2 separate regions of the Homo sapiens genome follow, and region 2 is linked to region 1. Evidence: fine-mapped expression QTL. A gene starts in region 1. The other region holds a variant in brackets. All regions are shown on one strand. Distances are between the middles of the regions. Region 1 holds the start of XKRX (XK related X-linked). Region 2 has its middle 6.5 kb from the start of NOX1.

Region 1 (5,380 bases):
ACCAAGAACACACAACCAGTCAATGACAGGGGGAAGACTAGACTCCAAATTTCAGGCCACTGTTTCCATTGATATCCCATATTCTCTCTGATAGAGCCTAATCGATTCCTCCCCACTTAAAAATTTATTGATAAAAAATTTTTTTGGCCTTATTGAGGTATAAGTGACAAATAAAAATTATACATGTGTACAGATATGAAATTTTATAAAGGAGTGAGTTCCATCCTTAATTAGTTTCACAGACTTTTTAGTTGTCTAATGATGAGGTATCTTCCCATTGCAACACTCTGACCCATATTCCTCGGCTGACTGCAGTTGTCTGCCTCTCTTGCAATCAAGACAAACTTGGTCCATTCCTTACTCCTGAACTCATAAGTTTTGCAACATCTCTCTACCTTGAAAACCCCATAGCATCCAGATGAGACTGTTGACACAGGTGCCTATCTCGCTAGGATTAAGTGCATTCTTTCCACTTCAAGGCAATCTGAATGGAAATACTTGATACTATTAAATTGTGCTACTGCATCCACATAGAGAGATGAACTGCCTTCCTTTGCCCCCTCCCAACTTCGTATCTTTATTGCAGAAATATACAAAGAGATAAATAGGAAACTGATAAACCGACAGAGAACTGAACTATATTGGGTTGGGGTACAGATTACCACAGATGGTTTAAAATAGTTTCCAGATGTCACATTACTCTGGAAAATTTGAAAATGGCAGTAGCACCAGCCCAAGCAGCTCAGGGTAAAGAAACTTTTATCCAATTTACAAAGCATCCAAAAGGTAGAGTCAAAATTACACACTCAGACCAGGCGCGGTGGCTCACTTTGGGAGGCTGAGGCAGGAAGATCACTTGAGCCCAGTCTACATAACGAGATCCCGTCTCTACAAAAAAAATTTTTTTTTTTTTGAGATGGAGTCTCACTCTATCGCCCAGGCTGGAGTGCAGTGGCACCGATCTTGGCTCACTGCAACCTCTACCTTCCGGGTTCAAGTGATTCTCCTGCCTCAGCCACCAGAGTAGCTGGGATTACAGATATGCGCCACCACACCCAGCTGATTTTTAGTAGAGACAGGGGTTTCACCATGTTGGCCAGCTGGTCTTGAACTCCTGACCTCAGGTGATCCACCCGCCTCAGCCTCCCAAAGTGCTGGGATTACAGGCATGAGCCACCACACCCGGCCTATAAAAATTTTTTTTTAATTAACCAGGCATGGTGACACATTCCTTTGGTCCCAGCTACTTGGAGGCTGAGGTGGGAGGTTCGCTTGATCCCAGGAGATCAAGGCTGCAGTGAGCCATGATCGCACCACTGCACTGTAGCCTGGGAGGCAGAGCAAGACCTTGTCTCAGAAAAAAAAAATTTTTTAAATAAAATTACACACTCTGCAGCTATGGCCTTCATGCACAGGGTGATCACGTCTTGTTGTTCCCATTCTAGTTTACACAGGCCAAATAGCATCGTTCATTGTTTTGGAACACAAGTACATACCACATGTTCATCATGGTGGCATTTAAGATTTCAGGTAAGTTTTCTGAATGGTAGACAGGGAAGCCGAGAGTGGGAGGAAATGAGAGAATTGATTAGAGCCATAGTATCCATCTTGTAAATCTTTCATCTTTCTCTGCCCAAGTCTGGGGTGGGGTTAGGGGGGTAAGGAAAAGATTTAAAAGTTGCTCACCTGATAACAGGTCCCAAGAGGATTAGATGCATAAATAATGATAGCGGTTTATCTTTGGCTAGATCTCTGTGGACAAAAATGAGGGTCAACTGGACCATAATGGATGAAAACATAAAGAAAGAAAAGGTGTATGTCATCCAGTAAGTTTCACTATTCTTTCGATAGATTCTAACCATGTACAAAGCAGATGCAGCCTCCCCACAGTACAAAAAGGTGGAGAAAAGGATGCTAAATGGAAAAGTAAATCGGGGGTTGGCTCCACGGATGACATCTTCCTCCAGAGATGAAACCGGATCCACATTTGGCTCCTCAGGAATTTCATAAACTCTGTCCATTGTCGAGGTTCTTTCTGAATGTTGTGGTCTTGTGTTCATAGCACCCTCCCACCCATCCCCAAGAGAACCCTATGGCCGCTACAGTCCAAGTATAGGTGAGGAGAGCTCTGTCAAGTCCAGTTTGGGAACAGAGATTCACTAGTTAGAGCAAGAAACCGCTCTCTTCTAGACTCAGATTCGACTTGGAGTCTGGGATGGAAAGCCCAGGAGTACCACTTTGAACTTGACTCTTGATTGGCCCCGATTCCAATCGTCAACATACTTGCTGTGAAACTTGAACAAGACAAAAGCAAGCATCCCAGCGCCCCATCCAGAGTCCAACTCCAGGGACGTGAAGAGTCATGAGAACAGCGGCTTCCGTGGCGGCTCCTTTCGCAGCCCCTCAGGCAGGGTGTAGCCGATCTGTCGGGGGCACCGACACTCAGCAGCTCCTCACAAAGAGTCCTGACCAGTGTGTCCTCTCAAGTCAGCGGAGAGCTGAGCCAGGGCAGAAGAGCGGGCGCAGAAGAAGGAGGGCAGAAGAGGGGATTCAGTTCAGTGCCTAGGTATCCTAGCTATTGCTAGGCTGTAGCTATCAGCTGGCCCGCTCACCTGCGCGCTCTCAGGACCTTTGCCGAGTCCAGGGTTCTCAGGATAGCTCCTCGGATTCCCCCAAGCCCCGCCCCCAAGACCGCCTGGCCCGGGAGTGGAGTATTGTCACCACCCTGTCTCCGAATGCAGTGTTGAGGGACAGAAGCAGAGCGCGCTCGCTCTACAGGATGAAGAAAAGGCTGGAGGGGCTGCTTCTCCTCGGAGAAACTTTGCTAGTGAGAGGCACGATGTGCGGGGCGCCAACCTGGCTGGACGGAGGTCGCCAAACTCTTGGACGCCGTCTGCTGCCAGGGTCCTGCCTGGTCTGCGATTCCAGCTGCGAGAGGTCGGCAGCTTCAAAAACTAAGGCACCGGGACGGCGGGGGCGGGCGAGATGGGCGGGACGGCTGCGGCCAAACAAAACCAGCCGGAGAGTTCCCGGGCAGGCGGCCAGCCGAGGGATGCTCGTTGTGGAGTGGCGGGACAAAAAGGGGCTTGGGCCGCTCTTCAGAAGCACTTCTGACCACCACCTCCAGACCCAGGCAGGAGCCACAGCTTTACTCCTCCCTAGGAGCAGCAGGCCCCCACTTCTACCCCGCCCTCCCTAACTAGTTAAGTGACTTGCTTCAACACTCACTCTACCCACGCTGTTAGGCAGGTGTGTCTCCCTCCGCCGCAGGGTGGAACCTCCCTAGGTCCTATTGCCCTCCAGATAATATCATGAAGGGGGAACCTGGGAGGAATAGGGTCAGAGTTTTCGGCGGAGGGAAGATAGAACAGGATAAAGGTCAAGACTCAAGGTCAGCCCACAGACACTGAAAGCTCATATTTTATGCCTTGATTTCTCCACTTGCAAAATGAGGCCAGGATAGGAGCTTTAGAATGAACTTACAGGTCTTTGGTTGAAAGGTTATGAAGAGGTGCCAAATTCTAAACAGACTGGCAAAGAGCCAAGAGAGAGCTGTTAGTAAAAACTGAGAGGGGTGTCTTAAAGAGCTTTGAAAATTACCTGTATTCTTAAGTGTAATCCTCCCCACCTCACTGAGCTTTTGTTTTCATATCTTCATTTGCATAATTCTAAACCTCAGAGAAAAAGAGAACACATCTGCCTCCTGGTAATAATATAGATGAAGGCCAGGCACAGTGGTTCACGCCTGTAATCCCAGCACTTTGGGAGGCTGAGGCAGGCAGATCACTTGAGGTCAGGAGTTCGAAACCAGCCTGGCCAACGTGGTGAAACCCCATCTCTACTAAAAATACAAAAATCAGCTGGTCGTGGTGGTGCGTGACTGTAATCCCAGCTACTCAGGAGGCTGAGGCAGGAGAAAAACTTGAACCCGGACGGCAGAGGTTGCAGTGAGCTGAGATCACGCCACTGCACTCCAGCCTGGGCAACAGAGCAAGATTACGTCTTAATAATAATAATAATAATAATAATAATAATAATAATAATGATGATTATGTAGCAGAGCCTGTGCCAATCTCCTTTTGCTGCAGGAAGTCAGTAAAACAAATCTATGTGAGGAGTGGCCAAGTAGCAGCCACCAAAATAATGGCCTCCAGGTTGTCCTGTCATTATGTTGTTTTTTGTTTTTTTAAGGTTTCCATGATTGCTGCCTCCTTTCCCCAGGGCTGATTCAGGGACAGATTCAACATCTAAAGGTTGTCACCTTCTGAAGCAGACTCCGCATCTTGGTCTGCACCTATGCTAGCAGCTGGGCTAGGAGGCTGCTCCTTTCTCCTTTCCATTTCATGAAGGAGGTCAACACTATTGAGAACAACTTCAGAGAGTGTTCTTTTTCTTATTAGTTGGGACATTCCAACTGGGACAAGGTTCTCCACCACCAGTATATGGTGCAGAACCTCTTGGGGCTGCTCTAGGTAACTGTTCACAAGGTGAATCTCAGGCAAGGTGACCAATTAATCCCATTTCACTGGGATAGGGTGAGTTGGTCCCCCTAAACATGAGAGAGTCAGCCGGGCGCGGTAGCTCATGCCTGTAATCCCAGCATTTCGGGAGGCCAAGGTGGGTGAATGGCCTGAGATCAGGAGTTTGAGACCAGCCTGACCAACATGGTGAAATCCTGTCTCTACTAAAAATTCAAAAATTAGCTGGGCGTGGTGGTGGGCACCTGTAATCCCAGCTACTCGGGAGGCTGAGGCAGGACAACCCCTTGAACCCAGGAGGCAGAAGTTGCAGTGAGCCAAGATAGCACCATTGCACTCCAGCCTGGGTGACAAGAGTGAAACTCCATCTCAAAAAAATAAAAATTAAAAATAAAAAAAAAAAAAAACATGGGAGAGTAAAGCTAAGAAGAAGAATGTAGAATCCCAACGTTTACCTTTTAGCCTTTCCTCCTTCTTCTCCATGGCCTTGTCTCTCCCCAAATACAAAAATTTACAATGCCTTCCTACTTTGTTCCAAAATGACTCCTTCTGTCTGTCATTCAAGGCTCTATATAATCATCACACTACTTCCCTCTCAGATTTTATTGCCCACACTACTCCTTCCACAAGGCCAGCCAGTTTTCTCACTTCTCCTATTTGCGTTGCTCACTCCCACCTCTGCCTTGTTGATGCGATTTACAACCCCCTTCACCCTTTTCTCCATTAGTCCAAACCATAACTTTCTTTCAAGGGTCAGCCGAAGTGCTCCCACCTCCAAGAAGCCTTCTGTCACCTCCCCAACCCTCATTTTTCTCTCTTCATGCTACTGGCACATGCTCTCTCATACTAGTCCTTCAACTATTTCTGTGTTTGTCCTGCCTCCCCCCAAAAATGTAAAGTTA
Region 2 (5,380 bases), 48 kb before region 1:
TGTCAGTGAACCACATAATATATATTCTCCTAAATCCAAACTAAATATACCACCAACACAACAACCTCTTATCTGTATTCCAGAAATGCTCATGGCCACTCCAGCATCACTTGACCTGAGGGGAAGTGTGACAGAGGGAAGTTGGAGTGGTAAGAGACAGTCAATCACTAGCAATGAAAATATTTTACATTTGTAAATTTTACAAAAACACTTGCCCGTGCCCAAGACCACACATTAAAAGAGAAACTAAAGCCTGTCCATGGAAGGGTGACCAAGATGATGTAATGAGTTGAAAGCATCCTATATTAGGAGGATTTAAAGAGTGTAGGGAATTTGGCCTGGAAAGAGGTTTATCGGGGACATGAGTTTATCTACATTTTTTTTAAGAAGATTTAGATTGTTTTGTATGTGACCCAAGGAGTCAACCAAGGAATAGAGGCTCTAAAGTAACACACTTTAGGTTGGGCATGGTGGCTCACGCCTATAATCCCAGCACTTTGGGAGGCTGAGGCGGGCAGATCACCTGGGGTCAGGAGTTTGAGACAAGCCTGGCTGGCCAACATGGCAAACCCCCATCTCTACCAAAAATACAAAAATTAGCCTGGCATGGTGGTGCATGCCTGTAGTCCCAGCTACTCGGGAGGCTGAGGCACTTGAATCGCTTGAATCCAGGAGGCGAGGGTTGTGGTGAGCCAAGGTCACGCCACTGCACTCCAGACTGGGCGAAAGAATAAGATTCTGTGTCAAAAAATAAAAATAAAAATAAATAAAGTAACACAATTTTTTTTCAATATAAAGCAGAATTTTCCAACACGGGTATTCAGAGAAGTAAAGAGGTAATGAGTTTCCTATTACTTGAGACTCTCAAGGAAAAATGGACAACCCCTTGTCAGCTTTTTATAAGGGGAATATCAGCACCAGGTAGATGGTTAACTAAATGTCCCTTAAATATACTCCAACATTGAGATCCTGTGATTCATAAAAGAATGATCTATAATCTGGATGACAATTTATGTATTATCTAAAGAATTATATATGCCATGCTGATTGGACCCTTATGTCTGTGAGGTAGGACCCCCATTCCCAATATCAGAGTACTAGGAAGTCTTTTGATAAGCTGGTGATCACAGAATCTGAGCTAAGATAGTCAGATGATCTTAACGGAATATTACTATTAAGCTGCAGCAGCAAACTCACTTGGCCCTTTTCAAGGTAAGATTACACCAGCAAATTCAACTAAAATATCCATGCCCCAAATCTGAAACCTCCCTCTCTTGGGCAATGCCGGACACACTAAAAACTTCTCACCATCAAGACATTTATGTGGCCAACAAACATACGAAAAAAAGCTCATCATCACTGGTCATTAGAGAAATGCAAATCAAAACCACAATGAGATGCCATCTCACGCCAGTTACAATGGTGATCATTAAAAAGTCTGGAAACAACAGATGCTGGCGAGGATGTGGAGAAATAGGAATGCTTTTACACTGTTGGTGGGAGTGTAAATTAGTTCAACCATTGTGAAAGACAGTGCGGTGATTCCTCAAGGATCTAGAACCAGAAATACCATTTGACCCAGCAATCCCATTACTGGGTATATACCCAAAGGATTAGAAATCATTCTACTATAAAGACACATGCACGTGTGTGTTTACTGCAGCACTATTTACAATAGCAAAGACTTGGAACCAACCCAAATGCCCATTAATAATAGACTGGATAAAGAAAATGTGGCACATATATACCATGGAATAGTATGCAGTCATAAAAAAGAATGAGTTCATGTCCTTTGCAGGGACATGGATGAAGCTGGAAACCATCATCCTCAGCAAACTAACACAGGAACAGAAAACCAAACACTGCATGTTCTCACTCATAAGTGGGAGTTGAACAATGAGAACACATGGGCACAGGGAGGGGAACATCACACACTGGGGCCTGTTGGGGGGTGGCAGGCAAGGGGAGGGAGAGCATGAGGACAAATACCTAATGCATGCAGGGCTTAAAAACTAGATTATGGGTTGATAGGTGCAGCAAACCACCATGGCACATGTATACCTATGTAACAAACCTGCACGTTCAGCACATGTATCCCAGAACTTAAAGTAAAATAAAAATAAGTTAAAATAAATAAACAAAACTTCTCACCATCAACCTCCCTTTTTTGTAAATTCTCCCAGAATTGCTTTCCTTCTGTTGGCTCTAGACATTATAATAGTCCCCTCCACCCTGTATTGCTTCACCTGTCTTAATGTTTGCATTTCCCAGGTTTATGGATTATGCGGCATTGACTAAATTTGAGGTTGCTTCCTGGAGATCTCTAGGGAGTACTTAAATGTCATCAGTAACTTATTCACAGTTTTACCATAGACTGCAGTCTTTTGGAAAGATTTCCTGTAGACGGTTGATCCCACCCATGGTAGGTGGATTCTTGCAAACTGTAAACACAAAGCCCTTACCTGACCTGCATGTTGTGTCTTCTCCCTGATCACTTGTGTCTGTCCTCATTTGTCCCAAATTTGCCTTTACAGTTACAACTCTTGTACACCTCTTCCAGGAATTAATATATAACAGAGAGTGTTGAATTACTTAACAGTTTAAACATGTGCTTAGGACATCAGAAAAAATTGTTTTGAGAATTATTTTAAGAATTTATAAAAGAATTTGATGGTTGGTTTTCAAAAACAAAAATTTAAGTAGTCATGGGGAAAATGATAGTTTGTTTTACTTATTTTATTGTTTATAATTAC[G/A]TTTAATTTGAATCCATAGAGGATGGTGTTGGGAGGACATTCGTTTATTTATTTATTTATTTACTTATTTTAATTTTATTTTTTTTAAGACGGAGTCTTGCTCTGTTGCCCAGGCTGGAGTGCAGTGGCGCGATCTCGGCTCACTGCAAGCTCCGCTTCCCGGGTTCACGCCATTCTGCTGCCTCAGCCTCCCCAGTAGCTGGGACTACAGGCGCCCGCCACCGCGCCCGGCTAATTTTTTTTGCATTTTTAGTGGAGACGGGGTTTCACTGTGGTGTCGATCTCCTGACCTCGTGATCCACCCGCCTCGGCCTCCCAAAGTGCTGGGATTACAGGCGTAAGCCACCGCGCCTGGCCCATTTGTTTCTTTTAAATCTTAGAGCCTTTAAAGGTATTAATTTGGTCTTGATTACAGCGTCCAAAAATGAAACATCCCATAATGATAAGAGGGACTGATACATGTGGAATTATTTGAAATCAATTCTTTTTACTATGTTGGAGCAGAACCAGACCTCACCAAAGTAGCACCTTGTAAAGGCAATATGGTATGATGGAGCTGGATTTGACCTCCAGCTCCCCACTCACTATTAATGCTCCCTTGGAAAAGTCTAACTTTGCTCAGCCTCAGTTTCTTCATCTGTAACCTAGCGTACTGATCCCTCATGGAGAAAGTGTTCAAATTGTAGCCTATATTGATAGGCAGAAGGCAAAGTGGTGGTACGGAAGAGATGGTAGAGCAGTATGGTGTACTGGTTAGATATAGATTCCAGAGCCAGTCTACCTAGGTTTGAAGCCTGCCTCATTATCCATAAAATGGGTTGTTATAAGAATTAAATGAGTTAAAGTATGGAAAGCAATGAGAACACTGCCTGACATATAAAAAGCACTCCATAGTTGCTTGCTATAATAATGATGATGATGATGAGCCCTAAGAAAATATAAGCAGAGGACCTAAACTCAATGGTACTTTCTTTTGCTATTGAAAAGGGGAGCAGAAACTATAGATCAGAGACCATTATTATACAAACTTTGTAAGATTATGAAACTTTTGTCACTACCTTATGTCCGTCGGTTTTACCCTGTTTTCTCCAGAGTTTAGCAAATTTTAAATGAGCCTGTGTGCTTGGCTTCAATAGTAGCAAGAAACTGGGAAGGTGCAGAGTTTGTGTCTCATTCTGCAGCTAGGCTTGGGGAGTAATTACCAAAGAAGAAAACAGGTGGTATCCCCATGGCCATAAGGAAGAAAGAACACTGGGGGTGGCCCTAGGCCTGGAAAGGGGCCTGGGGACTCAATGATGGAAAGGTTTATGTAGTTCCCTGTTCTCCCTACTTCCATCACAGGGCTGTGGTGAGCATCAAATGAGCTGGTATGTATAACAGTGATTTTTAGGCCAGTAAGTATCATGGAGACATCACTAGAATAGCAATGAGTACTTTCATGTTACATCTGCTACTTTGGAAATCTGCCCTCAAAAGTGTATATGTGAGACTTATTCAGCTCAGAAACAATATTCAACTCTTGCCTTTTCTTGAAGACCGATTAAGCTCTGCCTCTTCCAGGAAGTCTTCTCTGACCACCTCAGTCATCATACCACACTGTCTTCCAATTTTTATAGCATGACATAGCATGAGTTCCTCATCTTCTTACCTCTCTCATAGCCTGTGAAACCTCCCATTGTTATTTACCCTTTTCTGAGCAAGTCCTATCTTATCCAGATTGCTCCTTAAGGCAGAGCACAAAGCTCTCTATGCACAGTAGATGTTCAATAAACATTTGTCATGTGATGGTGTGGTAGGCAGAATAATAGCCCCCTAAAGATGTCCACATCCTAAGCCTGTGAATACGTTACCTTGCATGGCAAAGGGGAATGAAGGTGGAATTAAGGTTGCTAATCAGCTGACCCCAAAGCAGGGAGATTATTATGGATTCTATGGGTGGCCTAATGTAATCACAAGGATCCTTAAAAATGGAAGAGGGACACAGAAGTCAGAGTGATGAGATATGAGAACATGACCCACTCTTACTGACTTTGAAGATAGAGAAAGGAAGCCAGGAGCCAAGGAATGTGGGCTGGAACTTCTCCCCCAGAGCCTCCAGAAAGGAATGCAGCCCTGTCAGCACCTTGATTTTAACCCAGTGAGACCCAATGCAGAATTATGACAACCAGAACCATAAGATAATAAGTGTGTGTTGCTTTAAGCCACCAAGTTTATAGTAATTTGTTATAGCAGCAATAGGAAAGTAATACAGATGGTAAAGAAAAGACTTTCCTGCAACCATATTTACTGGCTCTGAACTGACTACTCTGCCTGGGAAAGAAGATAAGCCGGGTGCAGTGGCTCACACCTGTAATCCCAGCATTTTGGGAGGCCGAGGCGGGCGAGTCACTTGAGCTCAGGAGTTTGAGACCAGCCTGGCCAACGTGGTGAAACCCCATCTCTACTAAAAACACAAAAAATTAGCCAGGCATGGTGGCGGGCACCTGTAATCCCAGCTAACTACCTGGGAGACTGAGGCAGGAGAATTGCTTGAGCCCTGGAGGCGGAGGTTGCAGTGAGCTGAGATCACGCCACTGCACTCCAGCCTGGGTGACAAAGCGAGACTCCGTCTCGAGAAAAAAAAAAAA

The links. PIP is the estimated chance that this variant, and not a neighbour inherited with it, causes the effect.
Region 2: its variant is the best candidate, but not a certain one, in a credible set for the expression of XKRX in nasal epithelium (TOPMed, PIP 0.53).

What each region holds. Positions count from the first base shown.
Region 1 is chrX:100,926,284-100,931,663 of GRCh38, forward strand. It overlaps XKRX (XK related X-linked), which reads right to left and starts at 2,634. Exons shown (of 3, transcript NM_212559.3): 1 at 1,687-2,634. The coding sequence starts at 2,021. RefSeq lists enhancers at 838-2,037, 3,231-3,280.
Region 2 is chrX:100,878,213-100,883,592 of GRCh38, forward strand. No RefSeq gene overlaps it. Among named protein-coding and RNA genes, the nearest start is that of NOX1, 6.5 kb to the left of the region's middle. The variant G/A (reference allele first, on the strand shown) is at 2,754.